6 separate regions of the Homo sapiens genome follow, and all the other regions are linked to region 1. Evidence: fine-mapped expression QTL. A gene starts in region 1. Each other region holds a variant in brackets. All regions are shown on one strand. Distances are from middle to middle.

Region 1 (5,071 bases):
ATAAAAAAGAGTTTTCCCATGAATTACTTTATTTCAATATCCGTATAAAGCAGGAAAAATGGGTATTATTTCCTGCATTTGACAAATGGGAGAAACAGTAGTTACACGGTTAGCTCAAGTGATCACTGTTTAAGAGGTTTGTGGCAGCAACATCTAACTTTTAACTCACGAACATGGTTTTAAATGTCTTACATGAGAGATGTAAACAAGAATGTTTCATTTTCAAATAGAACACTTATTCCTGCATAATCGAGTCACCACCGTGGGGGCCACACAGCAGCCAGGGGTCCAAGTTTCCAGCCCCAGAGCTTTCCAGCCAGGGAGGGCTGGCCCAGGGCCCCTGTGGGGCTACTTGGCATCAGGTGTCTGGAGACCCGCCCCTGGACTCCACCCTCTTCACCCAAGCGTTAGGCACGTGTGGGCCGGAGTTTACACAGGAGGACCTTAGCGGGGCGTCTAAAAGAAGGGTGGCTCAGCAAACACGGGGCAGTGCGCCCTGGGATTCACAGTGGGAAGTGAGTGGCCTGCCTCGGCCATGCCAGCTGCGCCTGACCCTGTCGGGAAGGATTAGCTTTAATGAGGGGTCCGGACAGCCCATTCACTGCGCACTCCCACCCTGCCCCGGGAGAGCAAAATAACTTTCTCTACGGAGCACTCTGGTGTGTGTGTGTGTGTGTGTGTGTGTGTGTGTGTGTGTGTGTGTGTGTGTGTACACAAACATTTACTTGGTTGGCTGAGGCGGAGGGTGTGACCCAGTGGGCCACACCTCCCACCGCCCTACCCCGCTACGTGGAGGCGAGGAACAGTGGCCGCGGGCTACCGGGGCGCCTTCCGAAAAGAGAACCACTACGCGGCCCGCCGCCCCTCTGGCTGGACAAAGTGAAGCCGCAGGCAGATCCGAGTCGCCAATGTCCTCCCGGGCGGCTGGCGCGGACGGGGCTGAAGTTCAATGCAGCCTGCACGGATTAGGGAGCTCCGAGCCCCCAAATACCACAGAGACCCAAAGTACACTCCCGGGGCGGGGGAAGGGAACGGCGGCAGAGGAGACCCCCGCTCCAGGCCCAGAAACGCCCGGAGAGAAACTGGAGCGGAGGGGGTGCATTGGAAGACGCAGCTACACAGCTCCCCCCAACCCCCGCCCCGCTGCTTTCCCCACCCACCGCCCCTCCCCTCTCCTCCCTCCCCTCCCCTCTCTCCGTCTCCAGCAGCCGAGCGCGGGCTCCACCTCCCCGGAGCGCAGTCCACACCGTCCCTTTTCAGCAAAACAACACAACGCACCGCCCCCCGCACCCGCACCCGGCTGGATACCGGGCTACGCCCAGCCGCCCACCCGCCGCGCCCGGCGCCCCCTCTAGTCTGCAGCCGCCCAGCCCCCGCCCCAGGCGGAGCCCCAGCCCTGGCTGCACGCGGGCAGAGAGAGAGATTGAGCCCCGGCTCCGCCAGCCCAGCTCGGGCCCTGTCCCTCTACCCTTTCCCCAAGCCGCCCGAAGTGACAGGAGGGGCACGCACGGCGCGCGCGGGGCGTCCAGCGTTAACCGCTTCGGCGCCGGGGACGGGAGCGACAGGAGGGCTGGGGAGCAGGGGACCGAGTGCTGGGACTCACCGGAATGTGCACGCGCAGCGAACGCCTCTTCTGGCTGGCATTTTTCTTGCCGCCGCTCCCGCCGGGGCTGGAAACATCTTTTTTCTTCTTGGTGTCCATAACCGCGCTTCCCATAACTCTAACCAGAAGTTGATTCTGCGAAACTCCTCGGGGGTTCGGTCCCCTCCTTCCCTCCCCCGGCCGCTGCCTTCGGACTGGAGCCGCGCGCTCTGTTACACCCTGAAGCCACCTCGTGGGGACTTCCGCGGAGAGGGAGGGTGAGCAGGGAACTCGCGCGGCCGCCGCCGCCGCCGAAGCGCCGAATTCAAGCGTCCTTTCCTACGGAACCCTCGTAGGCAAATCAGTCAAAGCCCGTCCCGGTTCTGGTGTCTCCCCGGGTTACTCGTGGCTGAGGTCTCCCGCTGGGTGACAAAGTTTTCTTCCTTTTGCAAAGCTAAGAAACATTTTCCACCCTCTCGGCTCCTCCCACAGATTCCCAGAGGTAATCTGAAAGGCAGGTGCAATTAAAACCAGCAATTTGGAAAACAAGCCTCCTATGCCTGTGCCCAAGTGGGGAATCTGGAACCAGTAAGCCCGTTCGTGCATAAATGTAATCCTCGGCCGCAGAATAAACCAGCTCGGAGCCTGCAGCTGGGTCCGTCCTCCTTTCTGGGCGAGAGGGAGGGCGGCGGGGGAAGAGGAGGTGCAAGGCGAGCCCTCTGCGCAATTAGGCTACGGGCGGCCGCTGGCAGAAGTTCTGGCGGCGGCGCTCGCGGCCCTGCGCGCCGGAGGGGGCGCCCGGAGTCCAGCGGGCCAAGAAGGGCAGGGCGCCCGCTCCTCGCCCCCCGCCGCGCCGCGGCCCCAGGGGACCGCAAGGGGACAGTGAGGGGCCGGGCCTGGCACCGACGCAAGCTCGGGGAGCGCGGGTGGTGGGAGGCGGCGCGTGTTGAACAGGAAGTGCGCGGCGTGCAGCGCCACCGTCCCGCTCCCCGTCGCCCCACGCCGCCCTCGTCGCCGCGCCCAGACCCCTGCGGCGGCCGCAGCCGCTTGGGACTCGCTGCGAGCTGGTTTCGGATCCATCCCGCCTCCCGGCGTCTCACTGTGTGCCCTACCCTTTGAAACACGCCCCCGCGCCCGCCCTGCCGTAGACCAGGCAGCGAGGAAGCCCACAGTCTCCGGGGGCGCTGCGCGCGAAGTAGCACGTGCTTCTCGAAACACCGCAGCCCCCGGGTCCCGCCCCGCCCGGCGCGCGCACTCGAACCCGCCCAGAGAGCGGTGCGTGGCGCTGGGTGCGAGCAGGGTCTAGCCACCCCCACCCTCACCCCACCCCACCCCACCCTGCTTTTTTCAGGTTCATCAAGGTTTGCGCAGTGGATCCGCGGTAAGTGCGTGTCCCCACGCCGCGGGAAACGTGGGGCTCCTGAGACTGCGGAAAGAATTGGGAGAAGGGGAGGGCTCGAAGACCCGGGCGAGGGTTCCCGGTGCGGCCCAGGTCCTTTAGAGCCCCGGGTGGGCATCCAGTACCGCCTGCTGCCGAGGGCCCTAGAGGGGTTGGGGGAGGGGGCTGGTGTGTCCCCCACCCCCAGATGCGCCCCAGGATGGCGCGACCTCGGCTCCCTGGTGGAAAGTAGGGGGAGTGCTGGCTTGGGGGTCGCTTCCCCTCCTGCTCTAGTTTCTGAGGATGTGATGACCCCAAAGGTCATTGGCGCTCCCAGAATGCTGACGTCAGCTCAGCCGCTCCGAGTAATCAGTAATGCAGGGAGGCCACCCGCAGAAAGAACGCGACAGGGGTCGCTTTGGGGACACCATAGGGCCTTTACTCCTTTTGAGGTGCGTGCTTTCGCAGGACTCCCTCCCCAGAGGAGGAGGCATGATCAGCCCACCCAAAGGATCATCTCTTAGGAAGCAGGCGTGCGCCCACGCAGGGAGAAGCATCCTTCCTTTCAGCTGCTTGCCGGGTGGCTTTTCCAACCCGAGTTCCAGCAGCTTGCACAAAATCCTTACAGCTTGGGTGGTTCCCTGGCTCATAGGGGTGGGTTTATATTCTTTCTCCTTCTCCTCTGCTCTCTGGTCCAGAATGAAGCCAGCCTGGAAGATCCCCAGTCTCGAGACAGAGCCTGACAGGGGCAGATGCACTGGAAGGACCCTGTCTGGGTTTAGCAACCAAGCAGCCATCCTGGCCCCACAGGTGTGGGACTTCTGGGTCTTCTCCTGGCTGGCTTCTTGCTAGAGGATTTCAAGAGACCCAGCAAGACTGTATTGTCCCACTGAATGCTCAAGATATTGGTTAGAAGTAGAAAAGGGGAGGGGGTAGTATTTAGCCTCTGTCCCCACTAAAAATTATTCCCAATTGTCATTTGTGTCATCTGTTTAGCTTACAGTTTTAATCCTTGTCAAAATGATCATTTGCCAGGGTGCATAAAACACCCTATTTGATGAGAACTGGTTTTAAAGGAAAATGGGGCCATCAGAAGGAAGCCGGTTGGTGTGAAGAGACGTCTGGGAAGAGCCCCTGGCGAGGGCCCTCATTCCACTGGGTGACCCAGAAGGAGAAAACCGCGATGGCGCTTCTCATTTGAAATGTTTTCTTTATGGACAGTGTTTAGCAATTGTTATAATGTGTACTTTTGTTGATTGATCTGTATACATATGTAAAATAATTTGTTCTCTGAGTTAATTTTGTTGGAACAAAGACTTTAGTGCTTCCTACATTAAAACATTTTACTGTATTGCCTGCATTTTAAGAGCCTTTTTTTAATTTTTAATTTTTTTGGTCCTTGTGATATGACGAGGTATAAATTCTGGGTTTTGTCCAGGGTTCCTGGCTTAGCACTCTCGTCGCCCTCATCACAGTCTCTTGTTATAATGTTGGGGCGCTTTAGGCCTCAGACACCCCAGGAAACAATCTCCTCTGAACTTCCCCTGCCCTCCTTCACCACCTCACCAGCCCAAGGCAGGACTCTAATCCTCCCTCATCTTTCTGATTGTGGGACTTAAGACCCTCTATTCAGAAGGGGTCCTGCCCCATTCCCGAGAGGAAGAAATCCTGCACGGAAAGGCCAATAACGGTCGGAATAGGCAGGACTTGTTTGGGTGTCCACACTTACTCAGTCACTATTGGATCATACCTTTTTGTTCGATCACATTTCTGCATGGTCGTCAATCGTGTCTGTCCAATGAAGTCTCCTTAAGAAGCCCAAGAGGTCTGGGTTTGGGGGCTTCTGGATCCCTGGACATGTGGAGGCTGCTGGAAGACGGGGTGCCTGGGAAGGGCATGGAAACTCCGTGCCTGTTCTCCCTGTACATCCCATCATCTGTGTTCTTGGTAATATGCGTTATAATAAACCAGTAAATGTACATTTCCCTGAGTTCTGTGTTCCACTCTAGCAAATTAATGAACCTGAGAGGGGGTTGTGGGAACCCCAATTGAGAGCCCAGCCTGTCGGTCAGAAGCTCCGGATGCCTGGACTTGCAACTGCTGTGCGAAGT
Region 2 (5,071 bases), 220 kb before region 1:
TGTGTTTGTTTTATCCAGGCCATAGATTCCTGCTCTACTGCTCTTTTTGCCTCCTGCTTCTGTTTCTCAGAAAAATAGAAAATTGACTTTGCTTTGTTCAGGGGAGTCCATGGCATGTCCACCACTCCCATTTAAGTCAGGTTAACAGGGTAAATGCTGACGATGCACTGAGTCTACTGGTTCTAAAAGCCCTTTGTATTTGCTTTACCACCTTATAAAAAGGCATGGATCAGTATTTGTGTTGACCTTGAGGCTTTTCTTCTCACACCACGCAGATATCTTAACACAGGGGTTCACACATGGTGACCGGGCAGACAGATGCGTGTGAAACTAATGTGTAGACTAAATGCAATATACAGTTAATGCCTGGTGGGAAACAGAATTTTCCTTTAATTGCCCATTTGTAAGATTGAATAAGTAGGCAGGCAGAGTGTAAACACAGCCCCATCTATAGACGTGTGTCTTGGGAACAGAAAGGATCACACATTCTTAAGCTAAGACAAAGGCTTTAGTTTGAAGATAATGTCTTTGATTATTTCAGCATGGAGGGCTATAGATAGCCTCTTGGAGGCTCCGCTAGAAAAAATTCGGAATGGATTAAGTATATATTTTCCCACTAGCTGTGTCTGAACACATCACTCACGGCTCATGCGAAATTATTTCTCTGCCAGGCGTGGTAGTGCATGCCTGTAGTCCCAGCTACTCGGGAGGCCGAGGTGGGAGGACTGCTTGAGGCTGGGAGTTCGAGGTTACAGTGAGCTATGATCATGCCACTGTACTCCAGCCTGGGTGACAGAGTGAGACCCTGTCTCCAAAAAAAGTTATTTCCACAATTCATTCCTACATTCCGGAAAAGAATAAACCATATTAATACCACATCCCAATGCTAGTATTATTAGATCTGAGTAGTGAACACATAGACTGGTATTCAGAGATTCCCCAAATCAATCTTTAATTGTTAGACATAATAAAAGTGAAAGGGCAGATTCAAGTCCAGGAACGTGGACAGATCTTAAGAAGGAAAATCTCCTTTCTTTCAATCTCCCAGCTTCTCAAACCCGTAGCTGAGTCTTGAGCAGGCAAATGACTCAGAAACGTTTATGGTCTCCCTGGTACTAAAGTACTGTATACTTAGTTTCTTAAAAGAATCTGATTCATAGTGAGCCATTCTACTGAAATTGCACGATTTGTATCCAAATAGCAATACAACCTCTATCCAATGGCTTTTGGTATATAATAAATGCTCTCCAGGCTATATGTAACATTCGTTGTTTACTATATTAGAACCAGTAGTTTGCTTTATAATTTGAATTGTATAAAGCAATACTTATACTGTGTGTCTACTAGATTTTATGAAAATAAGACTTGAAAAGATGACATTCCTCCAACAATGAAACCATGTAAATTGAAGACAGGGACCTGATTATACTATTAAGTGAAAAGCTAAGTTGCTGAACAGTCTCTAGCAGGGTCTACATCTGTTATCTGTCCATTTCTGTATTTGTGTATAAAGGAACAACAAAAGTTAGACGAAAATGTGACACCGGAATTTATCCATTTGTCTCAAAGAGGCGGGATTCCAGGAAGTTTTAATTTTCTTTTTTATGTTTTTCCTTTTATAATCAGAGGAATGTCATTTTTAAAAGGTTTGAGTTGTGGTGTAATACACATAGCATAGTTTGCCATCTTAACCATTTTTCAGTAGACAGTCAGTAGCATTAAGCATGCTCACACTGTGGTGTAACCAATCTCCAGAACTTCTTCATCTTACAGGAATGTTGTTTTTAAAAGAGAGAACCAAATACTTCTCCAGATGTATGTGTTTTGAAAAATCAAATGCAAAGTAAGTAATGGCTTAATCAGACCGAACCACCATAATTGAATAGCCTGACCAATTCGTGAAAGAACTAGCCATGGGCCTTTCACTGTCTTTTTTTGTTTTTGTTTTTGTTTTTCTGAGACGGAGTCTTGCTCTGTCACCCAGGCTGGAGTGCAGTGGTGCAATCTTGGCTCACTGCAACTTCCGCCTCAAGCAATTCTCCTGCCTCAGCCTCCTGAATAGCTGGGACTACAGGCACAAGCCACCGCACC[C/T]GGCTAATTTTTATGTTTTTGGTAGAGACGGGATTTCACCATATTGGTCAGGCTGGTCTTGAACTCCTGACCTCATATGATCCAACCCCCCACCTTGGCCTCCCAAAGGGCTTTTGATTCAGCACATGAAGAGGAAATCACGGGCAGAGCTGTAGAAATCGTATTAGAATTTCATCTGTGTAGTTCCTTAGAAAGCTTTTCATTGAACCACCTGTTTCAATTTCCATTTTTTAAAAAAATAAAATATACCTCTGTCTGTAATCACGCTACGATGAGCAGCTGACATTCTTACTCAGGACTTAGAATAATAATGCTTTAGAGTCCTGCACGAAGCCTCCAAAAGAGTGGAAAAAATACACAACCCTTCGAAACAGGTTTACTCAAGCACGGTGAGAGAGGCTGGGCGGTCATTGATTAACAGGGTATGCGTTCCTTCTCAAAGAGATGGCAAAGGAAGCTTGTTCTAAACTTTTCCACCATTTCAATGGCTACTTTCTCCTGAGTCATTAAGGGAACACTGGTATTAGGTTTTGTGTCACAGTTGTACCAAGGATACCTCGCCAGCTAAAGTTAATGCTTTTCTAAGTGCTTATGAATTAGGGGACAGTCCCGGTTCTGAGCTGAAGGAATTCTCATCTAAATGCAAATCAAGACAAGCCTGTCTAGGATGCATAAATAGGTACAGTAATTTTTCCACCATTTAATGTTCAGCCCCCCAAATGCATTTTCACACAACTCTATTGGTAAAGAAGTATCCCTTATTAGAATTAAACGACATTTGCTTTCTTCCCCGCACCGGCTGTTACATAGGTAGAAAGTGTTCAGAGTCTTGATTTGGTTGACTTAAGGCATGGGAAATAAAATGGACAAAGAGAATCATTTTCCTAACCTCTGCTTCTCCACATCAGACTTCTAAATCCACGTCCGTGCCATTTCTATTTGATGTCCCAAAGGAATGAAAGAAAATGTGCCCCAGATGGAACTGAGGTTTCATCCCAGCTCTACTTCTCCGTCCAGTGTTTTTCTAATTTAATGACACTGTCATCCTTCCTTTCATGCCAGAAACTGGAGAGTCCCCCTAGAGTCCTCTTCCCACACGCCACATATCCAGGCTGCACTTTTATAATGAATTCCTTCCTCTGAATCTCCACTCCTGTGGCTGTAATTCAGCCTTTTGTCACCTCTCACTGGGCTACTGCAGCACTTTACTGGTTTTCTGGTTTAGTCTTTTCCGCATAAATTCCAGCCTCTAGCCTGTTACTAGAGTAATCATTCCATAAAATGCAAGTCTGTTGCTGGGCGTGGTGGCTCCCAGCACTTTGGGAGGCCAAGGAAGGAGGATGGCTTGAGCCCAGAAGTTCAAGACCAGCCTGGGCAACACAGGGAGAACCTATCTCTTCAACAACAGAAAAAAAATTAGTCGGGCATGGTGGTGTGTGCTGGTAATCCCAGCTACTTAGGAGGCTACTCAGGATAGCTTGAGCCCAGGAGTTTGAGGCTGCAGTGAGCTATGATCACACTCCAGCATGAGTGACAGAGGGAGAATCTATCTCTAAAAACAAACAAATACATAAAACACAAGTCTGGGCTTGGCACAGTGGCTCACACTTGTAATCCCTTTGGATTTGGGATTACTTTGGGAATCTTTGGGAGGCTGAGGTGGGTGGATCACCTGAGGTCAGGAGTTCAAGACCAGCCTGGCCAACATGGCAAAACGCTGGTCTCTTCCAAAATTTAAAAAACAAAACAAAACAAAAAAACGACACAAATCTGAACAAGTCCCTCCTCTGGAAATCATGGCAAGGGAGGGAAGGGCAAGTTTATGCTGTTTGTCTGTGCCACTTCAAATGTGCAGCCCTTCCTTACTCAAGGAGGTTAAGGGGAAGAACAAAGACCCTTCCACCTTCACTTTATGTTACTCCAAATCTCCTCAATCAGCCCAAAAGCAGAGTGTGTAATTCTATAACGCTCTGAAGGCAAGGAGTATAATCTTCAAGTCCTAACTCTGCTGGATTATTTACCACTTGGCCAACATTTTCTTTTTGTTTTTGTTTTTCAAACAGGGTCTCAGTCCTCTCGCCCAGGCAAAATCATGGCTCACTGCAGCCTCGACCTCCCAGGCTCAGATGATTCTCCCACCTCAGCCTCCCAAGTAGCTGGGACTACAGGCGTGCACCACCAGCCCAGCTAATTTTTTGTATTTTTAAGAGAGATGGGGTTTTGCCGTGTTGAGGCTGGTCTCGAACTCCTGGGCTCAAGTGATCTGCCCACCTCGGCCTCCTAGACCGCTGGGATTACAGGCGTAAGCCACCACGTCTGGCCCACTTTGCCAGCTTAGTGGCCAGTCTGATCCTCCTTAAGGGCAGGACAAATAACTAATTCCACTGCCCTCTCCAGTGGAATGCACTCCACGTCTTTAGTGAGGCAAAGCACTACTGTTTGTCCCTTGCCTTTCTGGGGATGAGACTCAATCTGCCCCTTTGCATTGGATGTTCCAACAAGCAACTGGCTAGCAGTATAAAGGGAAGCTCTGGCACAGATTAGTCACAGATTGGCAAACTTTCTGAAAAAAGCCCAGATAGAAATATTTCGGCTTTGTGAGCCATATAGTCTCTGTTGCAGCAACTCACTCTGCTGTTGCAGCATGAAAACGGCAAGGACAATAAATAAATGAATGCACGTAGCTGTGTGCCAATAAAACTTTAATCACAAAACCAGGTGGTGGGCCAGACTTGACCCATGAGACACCATGTGCCAAACCCCTAATCAGGTATATGAGCTAAGATGCTGCGTCAACCTTGGATCAGCTGAGAATCTCGGATCTCTCCAGAGGTGACGGACAACCATGCTGAGAACACGGATTCTGGAGCCCAGCTGCCTTGGTTCAAATCTTGGCTTTAGCGTTTGCTAGCCATTGAGCCTTTGGGGGAGTAACTTTACACAATTTTATCTCATTTGAGCCTCACAGCAACCCTGTGAG
Region 3 (5,071 bases), 160 kb before region 1:
TCATTCTTTCTGCCCACGCAGCATCTTTTTACACCTCCTCTATGCCTGACCTTGGGAGTGGGGGGAAGGGGCTCTGATGTGAGGGTCGTCCTGGGCCAGACTCAGCTTCTGCTACATGGAAGCAGATGCCAGGCAGGAGGTCCTGCCTTCCAGAGCAGACACTATCTTAGTCATCTTGGGCTGGCAGAACAGAGCACATAGATGGGGTGGCTTACGTAACAGAAGTTGATTTTCTTACGGTTCTGGGGGCTGGAAAGCCCAAGGTCACGGTGCCAGCCCTGTTGGTTTCTGGTGAGGACCCTCTTCCTGGCTTGCAGACAGCCGCCTTCCCATGGTGGTGGGTGGAGGGGGGGGTAGAGCTCTTCCTCTTCTTGTAAGGCCACAGTCCTATCAGCTTACAGCCCCACCCTTATGACTTTATTTACCCTTAATTACCTCCTCAAAGCCCTATCTCCAAATAAGCCACATCGAGGGTCAGGGCTTCAACGTATGAATTCGGGGGACACGATCTGGTCCACAGCACGGCACGAGTCCTCCAGCTGCATGCAGGTCATGGTGGCTGTGCCCAGTGCCACGTGGGCCTCCGTGTCCCCGCTCTGTAAGTCATGGTGGGCTCCTCTCGGAAACCCACCAAAGTCCCCAGTAAAAGTGCTGAGTAGCTCATGAAGTCCCCAGGATGCAAAAAAAAAAAAAAAAACCCAAAAACAAAACAAACAAAAAAACCCAGGTTTTTTTTGCATCCTGGGGACTCTGTGAGCTATTCACTGCTTTTAATACATTTTTGGGATCCACTACAACCAGCCAGAATGAATCTCTGGGCCCGTAGCTGACTGGAGGGACCCCTTCCATGGAGTCCAAAGATGACGGCTCAATGGGATTCTCTCATTCTTGTCCACCAAACCAGAAGGCAGGTCTGCCCACCTCCCCTGGCCCTTCTGTTCAAGAACTGGCTTCATCTCTCTTCAGCATCGGCCTCTGAGACCTAAAGGGCTGCCTGTTTCCCTGTGTTCCTGAGGGTGCCAGCCTGCATCTTGCCAAGTAGTTTCTTAGACTCAGATGATTCCTGTTCTCTCTGTGCTCAGACTTTCCAACCCACCCACAAACATTCATTAAGCCCCTGATAAGTACAAGGCCCCGAACTCAGGGAAATGGAGGGGACTGAAGGAGACGTGTGCCACCCTGTTCCCCGAGCGTTGCTCCGGGAGACGAGATGTATCTTGCAACCAGCTCAGCGGTGGAAGCAGTGGAAGTGCAGACAGAAAGCCCCATGGCAGAAGGGAGAGAGGTCCTGCCCCACTCCCGGTCTCTGCAACATGCTTCCCGGCCCCGGCACGCTCAGCCCTGGTCCAACTTATCATACAAGTTCTTGGGCAAGTGGGACTTTATGAAGGAGGTAGTCACAGAGACCCACCGCTCAGGCCTCCTGCTGGGGGAGCTGGGCTATAACTTCCGCTTCCCCCTTCACACAGAGACCATGCTCCCAACCCACCCCAAACCCGCCAGCACCCTCAGCCCCTGCCCTGGGCTGCTCCCAGCCAATGCCTAAGCGCCGGGTGCTGGGTCACCCTGAGACTCTCGCTGTCCAATCTTCCCTGCCACCGTGGCCGCAGGGGTCAGAAAGAAGATGCCCCCTGTCTTCTGCCTCCTACCCTCATCCTTCCCGGGCAGTTCCCCCAGTGAGTCTGGTGTGTGTTGAGTCCTGTCCTGGCACCTGCCTCTCAAGGGACCTGCATTCCTGCCTGGGTCCCGCCCACAGCACCACTGTCTTGCGATGGGCACTGTCACTCCCACCTGGCTTCCCAGAGCCTATGTGGGCCTGGCACCCTGATCTGTTCTCAACAAGAAACTGGAGCCTGCCCCTCCTCCCCCTGAGTTTGCCAGGCAGCCTGTAAGTTGGGGCTCCAAGTAACGCCTTCCCTGGCCCCTGTGCCTACTGAGGTAGTTCTGTTATTTCACTGAGGCCGCCACATTCAATCTGCACCTTCCCATGGAACTCTCCCAATTGGCTGTGCTTGCTCTGCCCAGGTCCAGACCAGGGGCAGCTCTGGCCCAGTCCTGGGCTCCTCCAGGTCTGTGAGCACCCCCAGGGGATGTGCTTAGGTCAGGGTGAGGCCTGGCCACTAGCACTGGCCCAGGGGCGAGCCCTTCCAAGATGGTCCAATCAGAATCAGGGAAGGGCCCTCATTCCACAGTAGGGGGAAATGCCCTTTCTTCTTTCTCTCCCTCCAGATCATAAACCTACAAACTCCTCCAGTGGCTGCAGACAGCCGTTTGTGACCACAAGGAAAGGTAGTGGAAGCCCAGATGGACACAGAGAGAAAGAACACAGACTTGCTGGTCTGGGACAAGCATTGTTGTTCAAGCCAGTTCGCGTTTGAGTTTCTGTTACTTCCAGCCCCAAAAGCACCCTAGATAGGAGAGTCTACCTAATACAGCAAGACCATGGCCCTTTCCAGAAAGGGTGGAGGCTGCTAGCTCAGGAGGTCGGTCTATAGGCAATTAAATCTCTGTGGGTGTAACACAGACTGTGTTCTTACTGCTATTTGTGGAA[A/C]ACAATTTTCTTAAAATAGATAGAACAGACCTTGACACCCTGAAGTCAAGCACTGACAGCCTCTGTTTTGAAAACAAAGCACCGTCAAGCTCTAGAAAATGCATGCAGGGCTCCAGAGCCCGTCCAGATGAGCAGAAATGGCAGAGGGGGACAGAGGGGGATGAAGGAGGAGAGAATGGAGGGGATGGAGGGGGATGGAGGGGATGGATGGGGACAGAGGGGGATAAAGGAGGACAGAGAGAATGGAGGGGATGGAGGGGGATGAAGGGGGCAGAGGGATGGAAAGGGATGGAGGGGGACAGGGGATTGAGGGGAGAGAGGGCAATGGAGGGTTTGGAGGGGATAGAGGGGACAGAAGGGCATGGAGGAGAATGGAACGGGAGGGAGAGGGTCAGAGGGGATGGTTGGGGACAGAGGGTAGTGGTGGGGGGAATGGAGGGGGATGGAGAGGGATGGAGCGGGGTAATAAGGGCAGAAGGAACAGAAGGAGATGGAGCAGGCAGAGGGGATGGAGGGAATGGAGGAGAATGAAGAACAGAGGGGGGTGAAAAAGGACAGACCAGGGTGGAGGGGCATGAAGGGGGCAGAGGGGATGGAGGGGACACAGAGGGCAGAGGGGGACAGAAGGATAGAGGATGTCAGAGGGCTGGATGGGGCAGCCTGGCCACCTACCCAGGCATGGGAGCCAGAACCCTGCAGCCGCCCAGCACTCAGGCTTTTCTGGGGTCCCATCCCTGCAGCCACCCATCCTGCATCCTGAAGCGGGGGTCCTGTCCCCTCTCTGCATCTCGAAAATGCCCCTTCCTGCTTCCTCTGCCATCTCCTCGGTCACTCTGGAGCTGCCTTCTGCCTACAACTGGAGCTCTAATGCCAACAGGAAAGGGCTGAAGACAGGGCCAGGGCCAGGGCCGGGGCCAGGGCCGGGGCCGAGGCCAGCACAGCGCTATGGGGCCCAGCTGGGGTGCCTGAGGGCCTGGCTCCCCAGAGCACGTCCTCCCTCCAAGGCCTCTCATGCAGAACCGAGGGTGACCAGCCACCTCCCACAGGAGGCGTGCCACCCCTCTGCCCCATGGTCACCTAATGTCCCCCTCCAGGCCTGCCCGTGACAGTGGGGGACATATGCTAGGACCCCCTGGGGCAGTCAAGGACATTCTACCCTGTTGGCCAGGGAGCAGCAGGGTAGGCCCCTCTAAAATCTGAGTAGAGATTTAGTTTGTCTGGAGAAGACAGATGTTTTGGCCTCGGATATTCACAGTGTCAGGCCAACGTCCCATCAAGCATGTACCAGCCAATTATGTTTGCTTTCATAGACGTTATCTGGCCTTACCATTCCTCTCTGACCCAGGTCCCTTAGTTCCCATGGTGACTCTGTACAAACACTACACATACTCCTTGTCCTAGATTCTTTCCCCTTATCTGCCTATCCCAACCCTGCTACTCCCTCGAGGCCCAGTTCAAGGCCACCTCCTCCATGCAGCCCACCCTGACTACTCCTTCCCACACAATCACCTTGCAGAATTCCTCAAGCGTGGCTGTGGCATTCTGTCTTGTGGGTGAGCTGGCTATTGTTTCCTGCATGTGAATATGATGGATGTTGTAGAATCCTCCTGGCATAGCTCCTAGTGCCCACAGCACAGTGAGCCTGTAACCCGTATTTCTCATTAGTTGGCTCTCTCATTTACCCCCAGAGACATTCTTTACAATGCAGGTGTAGACTCAGATGTGACCAAGACTTTGCTATCTTATAAAAGGGGTTCAGCCCATTGCAGTCTGGTTTTCCTAGCACCCTTCCTCCTGACGAGCTATGTTCAGGGGAGCGTTAGTTCGTTACCTGCTTGACATGGCACTGCCTGCCAACCTCACCTTAGGAAAAGGGTAAATAAGTTTACAAACATTAGGATGGGTGAAAGCAGCCATCTTTCAGCCAAGGATGTCTTGCCATTGGCATCCTTTCCTCTCCTACTCTTGGCATCAAAACTTCCAGCGAAAGGACTACCATCACTTACCCCAGCTCCCTCCCCAGGGGTCTCCTCGTGGAGCTCATCTCTCACTGAGGAAAGAAGGGCTCGGCTTTGATAAAGGAATGCTAGACTTTAGCAGGTGAGTGGCGGGGGTAGGATCCTGTCTATTCTCCAGAAATGCCATGAGACTCCCGTGGGGACACACGGACATGCAGCCCCATGCTCTGCGAGGTTCGTGTGCAAGGGAAGCCGAGAGTGTGCACCGCCGCCTCCCCACCATCAGCCAACAGCTCAACACCGATTCCCAGTCCCGGCTGTCACAGGCACTTCTTATTATGGATGTGCTACTAACACACAGCAAAACTGATTAGATAGGCACAGGCCCGGCAGGTCCCCATTAAAGGACATTCTTCCCTGCCCCAGAGGCCTTTTAATCCTCCAGCTGCTCCCCATTTCTGAGCACCCCAGCCCCACAACCACATCCTTGGCTCCTCTTTTCTTAGGTCTCTGCCTCCCAAAAAGTGGAAAACGGAAGGCTGCAGACAGGAAAGACATCCCC
Region 4 (5,071 bases), 200 kb before region 1:
TTTTGAGACAGTGTCTCGCTCTGTCACCCAGGCCGGAGTGCAGTGGTGCAATCTCGGCTCACTGCAACCTCTGCCTCTGGGTTCCCACGGTTCTCATGCCTCAGTCTCCTGACTAGTTGGGATTACAGGTGCCCACCACCACGCCAAGATAATTTTTTGTATTTTTAGTAAAGACAGGGTTTCACCATGCTGGCCAGGCTGGTCTGGAACTCCTGGCCTCAAGTGATCCACCCACCTTGGCCTTCCAAAGTGCTGGGTTTACAGGCATGAGCCACCGCACCTGGCCTTGTATTCTTATAAGAAGGAAATTGGGATGCAAAGAAAGACAAAGGGAAGATGGCTATGTGAGAACGGGACAGAGACTGGAGTAACACTGTCACAAGCTGAAGCTGGAGAAGGCAAGGAAGAACTCTCCCTAGAGGCTTTGAAGAGAGTGTAGCCCTGCCAACACCTTGACTTTGGACTTTTGGCCTCCAGAACAGTGAGACAGTACATTTCTATTGTTTTAAGCCATCCAGTGTGTGGCACTATGTCATGCCCCAGTGACATGCGACACTAATGTGACAACTGAATGGAGTGGTTCCAGCCATACAGGTAGACCCAGGGATGTGGCTCTCACAGTGTCGCTGGGCACGGGAATAATACTGGGTACCTGCGGTAATTAAACCAGCAGTGACAGCTGGGGTCTCAGTAGGGCCCACTGTGTTGAAACAGAGAGTGCTTAAGTGCTTAGTGAAGCCACGGAGATTCGCTGCCTCGGTCTCAGGAAGTGCTGGAGGCTGCACACGTCTGTCGCTCCATCCCACTCCTCTATGAAATGCTCCCCTTCCAAAGAGGGCATCCTAAGTCTGATGATGTCATCAGACTCAAAATCTTAAACCTCTAGAATAACACTTCTGTTTTACTTTTTTTTTTTGCTTTACCTATGACATTTTATGAATACTGTAGTATCCCAAGCAAGGTAAATTCAAATAAAGCTTTCAATGAATGATTTTTAAGAAGCTGAGGGGAAAAAAACCTCCTCCTGGTCATGTCCCAGATGTTACCATTTTTCATTTTGTTTCTTTTTTTCTTTTTTTTTTCAGACAGAGTCTGCTCTGTTACATAGGGGCTGGAGTGCGGTGTCATGATCTCAGCTCACTGCAGTGTCTGCCATCTAGGTTTAAGCAATTCTTATGCCTCAGCCTCCCGAGTAGTTGGGATACAGGTGCACGCCACCACACCCAGCTAATTTTTGCAGTTTTGGTAGAGACAGGGTTTTGCCATGTTGGCCAGGCTGGTCTCGAACTCCTGGCCTCAAGTGATCTGCCTATCTTGGCCTCCCAAAGTGCTGGGACTACAGGTGTGAGCCACCGCACCCAGCTATTTTTTGTGTATTTCCATTTGCTATTGTGCCCTCACCATTTCTCCCTCAGCCTGTGATTTATGGTACAATATCCTGAAGATGTCGGGAGCACACGACCTCAGCCTCGGCTGCAGATAGACTGCTCAGCTTGGGGCAATAACTGCTCTGCCCTCCCTCTGCCACCCGGCAGCCCCACCCACAGAAGGGCCCAGACTTACGGCTTTGGAGGGAGCATAGTGTGTCGGTGATGCCAGTGGAGGCCTGGTCGGGCTCTGGAAGGAAGACGGGCAGAACCTCTGCCCTGTGTCCGGGGGGGAAGACGAGGCATAGATGCGATTCTCTAACCGTTCAGGCTCGTGCTTATAGGATTCCAGGGGAAACGTGTGCTGCTTGGTCACTTGGGTGGGTGTTGACGGAGAGGAGGAGAGGCCGGAGGCTGCAGAAGAAACACCAAGGACGGTCAGAGGTCCGGCTTCCAGGAAGGGACGTCGGGGGTGGTCAGAGGTCTGGTCTCCAGGAAGGGAGATGGGGAGAGGTCAGAGGTCCGGCCTCCAGGAAGGGACGTCGGGGGCAGTCAGAGGTCCGGCCTCCAGGAAGGGACATTGGAGGTGGTCAGAGGTCCCGCCATGGCAGAGGGAGGCTCTCACCATTCCTGGTGCCCAAAACCTCAAATGGCAAGAAGCCAAATTATTCTGAATGTTGAGGAAAAGCTTTAAAAACCAATTTCTAGTCTCTTAGAATCAGCTGTTTCCAGAAACGCCTCACTATCCACGCTCGGTTGTGGGCAGCATCCCCTCATTGGGAACGGGGTGCTCACACGGTCCCGAGTTATCTGGTGAACTTTTACACACACCCTCCAGAGGCTATTTTCCTCCATTCAGCCAAATATCATTTGATCTCCTCTCCTTCTTTCCCCAGCATGGCGCCAAGAGCAAACGCAGTGGTGCCTTATTTATTGAGGTAAAACATGGGGAAGTTCGGAAAATGTGCAGCAGAGATGCAGGCCAATGCTGCAGAAGCCATGGGACCATGTATCTGAGGAGGGGGAGGGGGAGGGGACGGGAGGGGAGGGGAGGGGAGGGGATGGATGTGTTATTCCTACCAAAACGTGCAACATGAACATCACCACTGTAAGTTCCCAGTAGCAAGACTTCACTGCGAAGATAAATACCCAAGGAGACTTCAGGGAAAGGGTGGGACTGGAATGGGGTCTAAAAAGTGAAACAGATTTAGATGGTCAGGAAAAGGGAGGGGGCAAATAATGGGAGGGGCAACGGTGTTAGTGGAGGATTGTAGGAAGACTGGAGACATGAATCTTCTGGGAGTTAAAGGTTCTCCACTTTGACTTATTTCTAACTAACAGAAACAACTCTATTTCTTCCATAGACTTATTTATGTAATTTTTAAGTGGCGAGTGTACACCTAATTCATTACCATGGTGCTTTTGAAAGCAGAGCTGGAGATGCAGAGGCTCGTCAAGAAGAGGTTAAATAAATCATGGCACAGTGCACAGGTAGGATGTGACCTGTGAATGTGACCTTATTTGGAAACAGGGTCTTTTCAGATCAACCAAGTCTAGATGAGATTTTGCTGGACTAGGGTGGGCCCTAATGCAATGTGACTGGTGTCCTTATAAGAAGAGGAAAAGAGACACAGAAACGGATACCCAGAGGGAAGGCCTCGTGCTGGCAGAGGCAGCGATCGGAGCAATGCAGCTGCAGCCAAGGCGCG[A/C]TGGGGATTGCTGGCAAACCCAGAAGCCAGGGCGAGGCAAAGAGGAATCCTCCCCTACAGGTTTCAGAGAGAGCGTGGCGCTGCCAACACCTCGATTTTGAACTTCTGGCCTTCAGGACAGGGCTAAATTTTAGTTGTTTTAAGCCACTCAGTCGGTGGCACTTTGTTATAACAGCCTGAGGAGACTGATGCAATGCATGGATTGTGTTCTAAGAGAAGCAGAATCTGGCTTTGGGTCTGATATCTCAAATCTCTTTTTCTTTTTTTTTTGAGACAGAGTTTTCACTCTTGTCGCCCAGGCTGCAGTGCTGTGGTGTGATCTCAGCTCACTGCAACCTCTGCCTCCCGGGTTCAAGCGATTCTCCTGCCTTAGCATCCTGAGTAGCTGGGATTACAGGCACCTGCCACCAGGCCTGGCTAATCTTTTAAAAATATTTTTAGTAGACATGGGGTTTCACCATGTTGGGCAAGCTGCTTTCGAACTCCTGACCTCAAGTGATCTGCCTGCCCCGGCCTCCCAAAGTGCTGGGATTGCAGGCATGAGCCATCACACTCACCCTCTGATATCTTACATCTTACAGGTAGAAAAATAAAATTTTAAAATAAAATTTGAATTATGCAAGTCAAACCAAAGATGTCAGTGAACATGCCCTGTTAAATTACATGTAGCCTAGAGCTGCCTCCTTAAATATTTTAAGTTTGGCCTAAAGGGTTTTCTGTACATTGTGAACTGTAACAGACCATAGCCTACATTCGTGCCAGCCAGAGTTTTGGCAATCACATGTAGCCAACTGTTCCAACCGTGTTCAAGTAAGACAAATGCTGAGCTGTAACCAATCCAGGTGTTTCTGTGCCTTACTTCCGCTTTCTGTGGTCACTTTCCTTTTTCTGTCCATCAATCTTCTTCCACCACATGGCTGAGAGCTGGGCTCTCGGAGTCTACTCTGGCTCAGAAGGCTGCTCGATTTGCGAATCGTTCATTGCTCAGTCAAACTCCTTTAAACATAATTCGGCAGACGTTTTCCTTTTATCAGGTCCTAGAGCCACCAGTCACTGTTTCTGGTCTGGACAAGGCTGCGTCACCTACAGAGCCACAGGCCTGGTTCACTCTCCCCAGGCATCTCTGCTGGGTTCCTCCTCCTCGCAGCTCCCAGAACCACCCGTGTCCCTCCTGCTCCATCCTCATGGGGAAGGACCTGTCCTCCTGTCCCTCGTGTCACCAAACTCATAAAGCCTTTTCACTGTCCTGTATGTTACCACTTAATGACAAACTGTTTAACGTTCAAACCAAACATAAAAGTATGTAAGTCCCCTCTCCCCACCAAGATCTACCGTCTGTCTTGGGGACGGGGGTCCTGCCACTCCCTCTGGGCCCCAGGGCACCCAGTGCTGTCCTGAGCCAAGGGGTCTGGCAAATGCCTGCTGCCACCAGGCAAGGAACAGAAAGAACAGTGAGAGGACCGGCTCAAGGTCAGGGTGAATCTGTTCCTCTCTGTGGAGAGTGGGGCGCATGTTTTGTTTTGTGTGTCCGGGGGAGGTTTAGGAAGTCACCTATTAGAGAAGGAGCCCCCTTTTCCAGGGAGTCCCTTCAGGAGACTGAGCAGTGTGAGTGGAAAGCCCTCTGGAAGCCCCGGGCTGGCACTTGGGAGGCAGCTCTGGGTGGAAGCAGGAGGAGAGGGTTAGGACCCGAAACTTAAAATGTAAAAGGCCCTCACAACAAAGTCCCAAACTCTTGAAAAATAGAGGCCAGGTGCAGTGGCTCATGCCTATAATCTCAGCATTTCAGGAGGCTGAAGTGGGTGGACCACCTGAGGTTAGGAGTTCAAGACCAGACTGGCCAACATGGCAAAACCCCATCTCTACTAAAAATACAAATATTAGCTAGGCGTAGTGGCGCGCGCCTGTAGTCCCAGCCACTCCAGAGGCTGAGGCAGGAGAATCGCTTGAACCCAAGAGGCGGAGGTTGCAGTGAGCTGAGATTGTGCCACTGCATTC
Region 5 (5,071 bases), 81 kb before region 1:
GCAATTCTTGGTACTGATGGGCGGCAGGAGGTGACCAGAGCCAGGTCAATTGGAGCCTTTGAAAAACATTCATGTTATATAACCACTCTCAGAAAAATAAGGAACAAATATTGAATCACTGGAACCAGGCAGCAGGGGAGGGCCAGTGGCCAAATCCGGGAAGGCCTAAGCTCCACTCTCAGAGAAGTTCCAGAGCCATTTACTTTCCACAGAGGACACCGTAGTTTCTCACTACAGCCTAAGCAACTTCCTGATGTCAAAAGAAACATCCAACTGTTTTTCACTCCTATGGCCACCCTTCCTCCCTGGCTCCCTCACCTGGTGGTCCTGGTTCCCACAACCGCCTCGGGGCTCCCCTTCCCCGCCCCCCAAGGCCAAGGACCCTGGCCTGGCAGCCTGAGCCTCCCCTGGCTTTGAGGAAGTCCCCTGCTCCACCGTATTCCCAGTTCCTCGTCTGGCCCGAGGCCACCCGGGGCTTCCCTAGCTCCATATCAGCACCAGACATGAAACTCTTTTTGCTCAAAACCAAGTAGCTGCAGAATCCCTGGCCCGGAGTGCCCAGGAGACCTCGACCCTCCCCGCAGTTCTGCATTCACGTCTTATGTGGAGCACGCCCTTTAAAATCCAGGAACCTCCACTTTCCAGTGTGTAAAAGGAGGCCATCATCCTTCTTATCACGGGCTGGTGGGAAACGAGACCAGAGGACGTCATCAAAGGCCCTTCCCGCGGTGTGAGCCCCCGTGGCACTGGGCATGGCGAGGGCCGCTGGCCGAGGGCACACTGGGGCCTGATGATGAAGGCTGTGGGGAGCAACAAAGGCATCATCACCAGGGCAGCCAGGCCCCTCATGCGGCTCCCGCGGAAGCCAGGGCAGTTGCTCACACTCAACCAAGGCCTGAGATCGGGTTTCAGAGGCTTCTGCAAAGACACTGGCTGTCCCCCTTATAATTAGAGAGCTGTCTTTATCCCGTTCCCAAGGTGAAAGCCAAGATGATTCATGACTTGTGCACGGCAGTTCTAAAGAGGATCACAGCATGGCCGCTGCCAGAGTCTCCGGCTCTGTCCTCGTGCAAAGGGCAGCCGAGCCTTTCCTTGCCCACTCCGGGCAGCCTTTACTTGACCAGAGCTCCATGGAAGCTTGGAGGGACCCCACTGGCCTCCTCACGTTGTGGTGGAGGATGCTCTGCAGGGGCCAACAGTGCCTCTTCTGACCAGCTGGGGGTGGCCATCCTGACCGTCCTGACCTCAGGGGCTTGTGCTGTGGGATTCCTGAGAGCCCCTTCCTAGTTCAGGGCCCCAGGGCAGCCTCTTACAGGCAGCTGCTCCCAGGCCAGGTTGAGTCCAGCCTCTGCTCATCACACATGCTTGTCTTCTTCCAGCCTGTCTGAGATCCCCCAGAAGGAGGGAGAGTGGGGGGCAGGGGCAGCACCTAGAGGGACAGGTTGGGTGGAGGCTACAGGAGTCTGGGTCAGCTCCCAGTTCATGAGGAAGGAGGCAAGTACCTGGGAGGCCCCGGGACATGCAGGTTGGGGGGCGCATTTGCATGGTCTGTGCAGCCGTCTCCTCGAGGACCAGCAGCAGGCAGCCTCCCAGCTCCCTTCCAAGGGTGTGGCCTGGGCTGCAGGTTGCCGCCTCCATCCGGAGTAGCTGCGGTCTTCACAGGTGGCACTGCGGGCCCCAGCCAGGGGGCAGGGGAGGGGATGTTATGGGACAGGGAGCGCTGGGCTCCACTGACCACATCCCATCGTGGAGTCAGTAACGGTTAATTTGATGTGTCAGCCTGGCGAGGCCATAGCACCCACTGATTCAATCAAATACCAAGCAGGTGGCTGCCGTGGGCGTATTTGCAGACGTGGATGACATCTACAGTCAGTGACTTGAAGTGAAGCAGATCATGCTGAATGATGTGGGTGGGCCTCCCCCAATCCGCAGCAGGCCTGAAGAGGGAAAACAGAGGGTTCTGGAAGGGGAAATTCTGCTTCATGATTGCAGCATCGACTGCCTGAGCTTCTAGTCCGTCTGCCCAGTGGATTCGGGACTTTCCAGTTCCGACCAACGCATGAGTCAATTCTTTCAAACAAATCTCATATATATATATATATATATATATATATATATATATATATATATCACGATAATATGTATATGTAATCATGTTATATACATTATATAGAGTTAATATATTATGTGATTATATCTCAATATACATATTAAGAAAAATATGTATATTAAGGAGATATAATCACATAATATATTAACTTAATATATTTTCTTAGTATACATATATTAAGAAAAATAGGAGATCTATATGCTTGGATCTCTAGTCTTGGTTCTCCTTCTCTGCAGACCCCTCCTAACACAGAGCCCTAGGCCCCCTCACCCGAGCTGGTGGGGACAGACATGGGGAGAGTCCAGGGTAAAAGCAGGCCGCTGTTTGGAAGCTCTCAGCCTTCGCTGCATAGACGGATGGGTCTGCTCAGTCATCGGGTGGGCTCTCCGCCCACACTGTGGCTCTCTGTCCACACTATGGAACCCTCACTTTGCCCAGGGCCCAGTGAGACACCCACAGGCCCCAGCTGGACGAGAGGACAAAGACGGATGTGAAGGGCCGTTGTCCTGGCAGTGCTTAGAGAACAACAGGAAATGGCCAAATGTCCTCCTTTGACTGTCAGGGAACATTCACAGTACGTGAAGGGCAATCACAGGTTTAGAAAAGCACCACGATCACCTCCTAGCCTCGTCTCTGAGCCTTGGCAGCAGAGTGGGGCAATCCTCTTGCCTTCGCACGCTGGGTAACAGTCGTGCAAGTGTCTGTCATGGCATCTTGTCACCCTGTCCTGTCACTGAGGGCCTGTCTCCTGCCACACCCAGTTGGAGCTCGGCAAGGACCGCGTCTT[T/A]TTCACCCCTGAGTCACCGGCTCCTCCCAGGGCTGGATTCCATGAGCCTCTGTCCTTCCCCTTCGCAGAGCTGACACGGGGAGAGTGGTCATAAGCTGGGGCGTAAATGACTGAGGACGGCCCGGGGGCCAGTAAACACCAAGACCTCGGGATAAGGGAATGACATCCTGATGCGCCACCTCCAGCCCCTGTACGGAGGGAACAGCCCTTCATTTCTAGGACTGTCTTCAGCTCTGACATTATGATTCTACCAAGACAGGGTGTGAAAAGGCCAGCTCTGGGGTTCTGGGGAGGTTTTATTGGCTCGCAAATAAAATGCCAAACCACCAGCCAATACCAGCATAGAGCCCTCCGTGGGCACTACCGACTCAAGGGAAAGGCCCCGAGGCCCCACACCCGGCCCGGCCAGCCAGCTGCAGACACACCCTCCAGTCATCGGCCACCCAGACTTCAGAGAGGAAAAAACCAGCCACGAGGTGAAAGTGAGATGGCCCCGGCCTGACCTCTGCTGCAGAGGCCCAAATGGCCCTGGTCAGATCTGACGCTTCCCCCACAGTCAGCTTCTTGCCACCCCCCCCACCCCCCACCGCCGCCTGGTGCTCCCCACCGGGTACACACCCAGCGGTTTTGGTTAGTGCTTGAAGACAAACTGCAGGAGGGACACCATGAACTACAATAAAATTGGGCACCCTGGGGACATTTTTGTAAGGTCACCGAGTTGCTGGCTGGCTCTGAGACACACCCTCCTCTACGTAGAGGACCTTGTGTGAGAGAGGACACCTCTGAACGAGGGCTCAGAGACCTCATTTCTGCTCCCAAACAGCTACCCAAGATGTGGCTTTGGGCTTTGGCCCAGAGCTGAGGCCTGCAAAGGCTGCCACCTCAGTGCTTCCAGAATCTCAACTGTCCATATTTACAGAGCCATACATCAAAAGATTCTTCCCCAACACTTTCTACGGGTACCCAAGGACTCCTTCTACTCCATCTTGTTTCACCCACCTGCTCTGTGCCAGGCACATTATAGATCAAAAGGTACAGGGAGTTCAGAGGAAGGAGGAAATACCATGGACTTAAAAAGCAAGCCAGGGCTTCCCAAGCCAAGCATAGTGAATAGAGGAGCTTTCATTTGTCTCCTCACTTCCATCCCGGGGTGAGCCGGCCACTCCCGCAGCATCTGGCCACGGCTCTTCACACTGACAGTCCCAACTTGTCAGTGGATTATGAAATCAATTTAGTGGATTGCACAACCACCAAAAACTGAATTACAATAAGAATGTATCTCATGGTTGCATGAAGCCTGTGTCTCAATGATTCACACACACATAGAATAAAATGTACTTTGTTTGTTTGTTTGTTTTTTCCCCTGAGACAGAGTCTTGCTCTGTCATCCAGGCTGGAATGCAATGGCACAATCTCGGCTCACTGCAACCTCCGCCTCCTGGGTTCAAGTGATTCTCCTGCCTCAGCCTCTGAGTAGCTGAGATTACAGGCGCCCGCCACCACGCCTGGCTAATTTTTGTATATTTAGTAGAGATGGGGTTTCACCATGTTGGCCAGGCTGGTCTCAAACTCCTGACCTCATGATCCACCTACTTTGGCCTCCCAAAGTGTTGTGATTAGAGGTGTGAGCTACCGTGTCCGGCCTGTTTTTTTGTTTGTTCGTTTTTTGTTTTTTGAGATGGAGTCTCACTCTGTCGCCCAGGCTGGAGTGTAGTAGCGCAATCTTGGCTCACTTCAACCTCCGCCTCCCGGGTTCAAGCGATTCTCATGCCTCAGTCTCCCAAGTAGCTGGGATTACAGGTGTGAGCCACCACGCCCGGCTAATTTTTCTATTTTTAGTAGAGATGGCGTTTTCCCATGTTGTCCAGGCTGGTCTTGAACTCCTGGGCTCAAGGGATATACCTGCCTTGGCCTCCCAGAGTGTTGAGATTACAGGCATGAGCCGCTGTACCCAGCCTGAATAAAATGTACTTCCTATTGTGTTGTGGGTGAAAAAGTCTGAAAAATTCTGCATTAGATAAGCTTTGAAATCATGCAGGTAGATTTCAGGGAACAGAGAAGAGCTGACCTTCTGTCCCCGAGGTGTCACCAGAAGTGTGGAGCAAGGGGTACCATCTGTCCTCCTCTCCTGGCTGAAGCCCTCTGACCCCTCTCCGTACTTTATGCCCAGAAAT
Region 6 (5,071 bases), 240 kb before region 1:
GGAAGCACACAAGACAGTGTGAACGCCTTTTCAAGTCCTCGAATTGTCAAGCATCTTATATAAAGTTCTTTCCCGACTCTGAGCTCATCACATTTCATTTTACATATTAATTTTGCGTAAGAGCAAGCTCATCCCGTTCAAATGTTAACAGCTTCAAAATAAGATCCTGGTGAAAGCTCGTCACATTCCATTTTAAATATTAATTTTGCCAAAGAACGAGCTCATGCCTTTCAAATGTTAACAGCCTCCAAATAAGATCCAAGTTATTTACCTGTAAGATACAAGAAGAAGACAGGAGAGGGAAAAAAAACAACCAAGTGAGAGGAGAGGCGACAGAAATGACGGAGTGAGAGGGTCGCCTGAACTCAACACCGATTCAATAACCTCTTCAGGTTTTCCTATTTAACTTTCCCCATTAAAAAAGAAGACACACCCTACCGGTCATATCTTCACAGGCGCAGATAAGGGCACCAGTCTATGATTAAAGGGTCTGGACTGTGGGTATGATTCGGGGTTGCCTCCGAGTGCATGGTGACAAGCACAAACAATTAGCGCTCCCTGACACCTTGCTGTAATTCGAGTTCGGCGAGTAAGGACAAAAGGGCCGCCCGTCCGTGTGGATGCCGGGCTCAGGGCTGCGCTCTGGGAGCCTGGCTCGCGTCCCCTCCGCGGACGCCCGGTACCCCGCAGCCCGAGCTCGCCGGCGCCCGCATCCCCGCCCCGGTTCCCGCCCCGGCCCCTGGGCTTCCGCAGGACGCAGCTCGCCGTGGGGCAGCGCCGGAGATGGGGCGCGGGGTCCCCGCGGGTCCCGGTCCTCGGGCGGCCGGGCCGTGGGAGCGCCGGGCCGGCAGCGGGCGGGGCGCACTCACCTTCGTCCTCGAACTCCAGCTTCTCCAGCATGCCGGCTTCCGCGGGTCCCAGGGCCGCCGCCAGCGCCGCCTGAGGGGGAGGAGGAGGACAGCGATCAGCATGAGCTGCGACGCTCGTCCCCGGCCGGCGGGCTCGCGGCCGGCCGAGCGCTGGGGCCTGGCTCTGCCGCGCCGCCGGGAGGAGGGGCCTGGCAGGGGACGCGGGCAGCGGGGGCCGGGGGCGGAGCGGGAGCGCTGCCCCCACCCGCCCGAGGCCGCCGCCGCCGCCGCAGGTGGCGCGGCCGCGGCCCGCGTGCCCCTCCGCGAGTGGGACGCGCCGCTCCCCCCCGCGCCTTGGTACGGCCCGCCCGGGAGGAAGCGTGGGAAGGGACCCGGGAGCTCGAGGGCGGCAGCGCCTGGGCCCGGGGCGCCCCCCTCCGGCCGTGGCCCGCGTCCTCCCCGCCGTGCCGCCATTGGGAGAGGCCCGCGGCCCGCCCCCACTCCGCCCCCCGGCGCCGCTCACCTTCCCAGCACCGGCGGCCGCGCTCGGCAGGCTCCACCTGCGCAGGTGTGGGCTCCGCGGCGCGGGGAGGGGGAGAGGGGCTGGAGGCTGCAGAACGCCCCGGGGCGCCAGCTAGGGGATCCTTTCTCGCTTTCCTCTTCCCTTTCCAAATTTTAGATGTAACTGCCCATCCTCGGCCCCCTTAACAAAAATCGTTCCGTGGGCTACACGTATTGTAGATGCACTTTGTCGCTATCCATTTTTTTTTTTCCAGCATGGAACTCTTAATTCGCGTCCTCTCTTCGCAGCCGAGTGTCTTCTCGGTTGGGGAGCCGCTGCCAAAAACGTACACACCCTGAATCTGGCCCTGGCCGCTCAGGAGCTGGGTATCTGAGACTCTACTATGGCCAACTCAGGTTGGCAGGCTGCGCGGCCAGCAGCCGCTAGCCTCCTGGAAGGGCAGGACAGGCCGAGAGGGGACTGAGGTCCCTGGCCCCACGGCCCATCCCTGCAGAGTGCACGGGCGCCGCGAATGCGATTAGCTCCAGTACCGATTAGGGCTGAAAGGAGCTTGGCCCTAGCGCTCTTGCAAGCCGGGCCTGAAAGAGGAAGTCCTGAAAATGCCTCTCGTTTAGCTTTGTCATCTTACTTGCGCCAATCCCTAAGTCTTAAACCTCTTAAAAAAAGAAAAGGGGTGGGGAGAGAAAAAGAAAACAAAACTAAGATGTTTCATGGTAAAAAGCTACAGCAGATA[C/T]CATACTTCATAGTGAAAGACTGTTTTCCCTATGAAGTTCAGAAACCAGGCCAGGGTGTCTGCTCTCACTAATCCTATTCAACATGGTTCTAGAAGTACTAGGCCCTGCAATAAGGCAAGAAAAGGAAAGAAAACGCATACAGATTGGAAAGGAAGAAAAACACCTGTGTAGATAACATGTTATCTACATACAAAATATCAAAGAATCTACAAAAGAAAGAAAAAACTCACCTGGAATTAGTGAGTTTGGTAAGGTCATAGCATACAAGATCAACACACAAAAATCAATCACATTTCTATAAACTAACAATGAACACATGGAAAAATATATAAAACAATATCACTTAATACAATCACTTCAAAGAAAATTAATACTTAGGCATAAACTCAAGAAACCATGTATAGTAGCTGTATGCTGAAAATCACAAACTGTAGATGAAAGACGAGCTAATAAATGGAGAGACAGTCCTGAGCTGGAAGCCCCAACATAGTAAAAATGACAATTCTCCCCCAGATTAATCTTTTGGTTTAATGCAATTGCTACCAAATTAGGGTTTTTTTTAAAGACATAAATAAGCTTATTCTAAAATTTATATGGAAAGGTGCAAGCTCTAGAATTCTATTTATTTATTTATTATTTTTTTGAGACGGAGTCTCGCTCTGTCACCCAGGCTGGAGTGCAGTGGCGCAACCTCGGCTCACTGCAAGCTCTGCTTCCTGGGTTCACGCCATTCTCCTGCCTCAGCCTCCCAAGTAGCTGGGACTACAGTAGAATTCTTTAATCTTGAAGTCGCTTAATATTAAAGCAAACTATATAGATACAGCAATCAAGACAATGGTATTGGCAGAAGAATGGATATAATAATCAATAGAAATAAATAGAAAACCCAGAAATAGACCCATGCAAACATGGCAAACCAATTTTTGATGGAGGTGTAAAAGCAATAGAACTGGAGTAATTGGATATCAAAAGGTAAAAAGACAAAAACAAACCCCAACCTAAGCCTTGCGTTTTACACAAAAATTAGCTCACATTGGATCGTGAACTTAAAACTATGAAACTTTTTGGAGAAAATATTTGGGAACTGGGGCAAGGCAAAAGTTAGACTTGACACCAAAAACACAGTCCATAAAAGGAAAAACATAAATGGACCTCATTAAAATTAAGAATTTTTGCTCTGCGAAAGACCCTGTTAAGAGGATGAAAAGAAAAGCTACACAGTAGGAGAAAATACTTGCAAATCACATAGCCAACAAATTACTAGCACACTGCCTATAGGGTTAGCCCTGCTCTCCAAGGAATAGCAAAAATAAAATAAAATAAAAATGTCTGGAATACATAAACACTACCAATATTAAACAGAAAATGGAGAAAATAATCCAATTAGAACATAGGCAAATGACACAGAGCTGTTTCACCAAGAAAGATATACAGATGGCAAATTAGTGCATGAAAAGATGTTCAAAGTCATTAGCCATTATATAAATGCGAATTAAAACCACAATGAGATACTACTACACAACTGTTAAAATGGCTAAAATCACAATAGTAACAACATCAAATGCTGGTAAGGATGTAGAGAGACAGACAGGATTACTTCTACACTGCTGGTGGGAATGCAAAATGGAACCACTGTTTTTTTTTTTTTTTTTCTTTTTTTTTTGAGACAGGGTCTCCCTCTGTGGCCCAGGCTGGAGCGCAGTGGACCTATCTCAACTCACTGCAACCTCTACCTCCCAGGTTCAGGCAATTTTCCTGTCTCAGCCTCCTGAGTAGCTAGGATTACAGGCACATGCTACCACAGGTCAGCTAATTTTTGTATTTTTAGTAGAGATGAGGTTTCACCATATTGGTCAGGCTGGTCTTGAACTCCCGACCTCAGGTGATCTGCCTGCCTTGGCCTCCCAAAGTGCTGGGATTACAGGCGTGAGCCACTGTGCCTGGTCAGGAACCACCACTCTTAAAAACAATTTGGCAGTTTTTTATAAAACTAAACATGCAACTACCATGTAACACATCAGTTACACTCTTGGGCATTTATCCCAGGGAAATGAAAACTTACATTTACACAAAAACTTGTACATGAATATTCATAGCAGCTTTTTTGCAACAGTGCAAACGAAATAACAGATGTCGTTCAATGGATGAATGGTGAAGCGGGCTGTGGTAGGTCCATCTATACCGTAAAATACTACTCAGCAAGAAAAAGGAAGGAACTACTGACACATACAACAACTTGGATAGATCTCCAGGGAATTATGCTGAGGGGGAAAAAGCCAGTCCTAAAACGTCATATACTGTATGATTCCATTTATATTATAGTCTTGAAATAAAATGGTCGAAATGGAGAACAGATTAGTGGATGCCGGGGATCAGGGGCTGGGGTAGGGGGCCAGAGGTGCCTATGGCTATAAGAGGATAATGTAAGAGATCCTTGTGGTGACCGAACTGTTCTACATCTTGACTGTATCAATGTCAATATCCTGCTTGTGATATCACCCTGTATTTTTCCCTATGAGTCAGGCCAAGCTGATTTAATTCTGTGGAGGAAATGACAATAAATTTTTTTTTTTTTTTTTTTGAGACGGAGTCTCGCTTTGTCCCCCAGGCTGGAGTGCAGTGGTGCCATCTCAGCTCACTGCCAGCTCCACCTCCCGGGTTCACGCCATTCTCCTGCCTTAGCCTCCGGAGTAGCTAGGACTACAGGCTAATTTTTTGTATTTTTTTTAGTAGAGACTGGGTTTCACCGTGTTAGCCAAGATGGTCTCGATCTCCTGACCTCGTGATCCACCCGCCTCAGACTCCCAAAGTGCTGGGATTACAGGCATGAGCCACCGCGCCCAGCCAAAAAAATCTTTACTGAAATATAATTCACATACCATAAAATAACTCACCCATTTAAAGTGTGCAGCCCAGTGATTTTTGGAATATTCAGAATTGTGCAACTATCTAAGTTTACATTTTCA

Which allele goes with the higher level. Positions count from the first base shown, and alleles are read on the strand shown. Sizes are in standard deviations (SD) of each study's normalised expression. Not every link is listed here.
As copies of C replace A in region 3, the expression in skeletal muscle of the gene that starts at base 2,212 in region 1 goes up (small effect, 0.36 SD a copy in FUSION).
In carriers of allele T in region 5, the expression in monocytes after Pam3CSK4 of the gene that starts at base 2,212 in region 1 tends to be lower than with A alone (moderate effect, 0.57 SD a copy in Quach 2016).

The links.
Region 2: its variant is fine-mapped to the expression of PRKAG2 in whole blood (TOPMed, PIP 0.92).
Region 3: its variant is fine-mapped to the expression of PRKAG2 in skeletal muscle (FUSION, PIP 0.95).
Region 4: its variant is fine-mapped to the expression of PRKAG2 in nasal epithelium (TOPMed, PIP 0.95).
Region 5: its variant is fine-mapped to the expression of PRKAG2 in monocytes after Pam3CSK4 (Quach 2016, PIP 0.95).
Region 6: its variant is fine-mapped to the expression of PRKAG2 in whole blood (TOPMed, PIP above 0.99).

What each region holds. Positions count from the first base shown.
Region 1 is chr7:151,874,904-151,879,974 of GRCh38, forward strand. PRKAG2 (protein kinase AMP-activated non-catalytic subunit gamma 2) reads right to left here and starts at 2,212. Exons shown (of 16, transcript NM_016203.4): 1 at 1,604-2,212. The coding sequence starts at 1,717. It overlaps PRKAG2-AS1 (PRKAG2 antisense RNA 1), which reads left to right and starts at 2,139. Exons shown (of 3, transcript NR_038926.1): 1 at 2,139-2,237; 2 at 2,934-2,963; 3 at 3,659-4,320. RefSeq lists an enhancer at 955-1,074 and silencers at 1,265-1,404, 1,465-1,514, 2,277-2,706.
Region 2 is chr7:151,659,247-151,664,317 of GRCh38, forward strand. All of the region lies in intron 4 of PRKAG2 (protein kinase AMP-activated non-catalytic subunit gamma 2), which reads right to left. Among named protein-coding and RNA genes, the nearest start is that of RHEB, 140 kb to the left of the region's middle. The variant C/T (reference allele first, on the strand shown) is at 2,092.
Region 3 is chr7:151,717,933-151,723,003 of GRCh38, forward strand. The region is part of intron 3 of PRKAG2 (protein kinase AMP-activated non-catalytic subunit gamma 2); the gene reads right to left. Among named protein-coding and RNA genes, the nearest start is that of PRKAG2-AS2, 86 kb to the right of the region's middle. RefSeq lists an enhancer at 2,937-3,458. The variant A/C (reference allele first, on the strand shown) is at 2,552.
Region 4 is chr7:151,673,857-151,678,927 of GRCh38, forward strand. PRKAG2 (protein kinase AMP-activated non-catalytic subunit gamma 2) reads right to left here. Exons shown (of 16, transcript NM_016203.4): 4 at 1,564-1,781. Among named protein-coding and RNA genes, the nearest start is that of PRKAG2-AS2, 130 kb to the right of the region's middle. The variant A/C (reference allele first, on the strand shown) is at 3,077.
Region 5 is chr7:151,793,761-151,798,831 of GRCh38, forward strand. All of the region lies in intron 1 of PRKAG2 (protein kinase AMP-activated non-catalytic subunit gamma 2), which reads right to left. Among named protein-coding and RNA genes, the nearest start is that of PRKAG2-AS2, 10 kb to the right of the region's middle. RefSeq lists enhancers at 347-1,244, 1,789-1,928, 2,189-2,771, 2,772-3,353. The variant T/A (reference allele first, on the strand shown) is at 2,898.
Region 6 is chr7:151,631,200-151,636,270 of GRCh38, forward strand. PRKAG2 (protein kinase AMP-activated non-catalytic subunit gamma 2) reads right to left here. Exons shown (of 16, transcript NM_016203.4): 5 at 870-939. Among named protein-coding and RNA genes, the nearest start is that of RHEB, 110 kb to the left of the region's middle. RefSeq lists silencers at 394-493, 644-1,513 and an enhancer at 1,884-2,233. The variant C/T (reference allele first, on the strand shown) is at 2,105.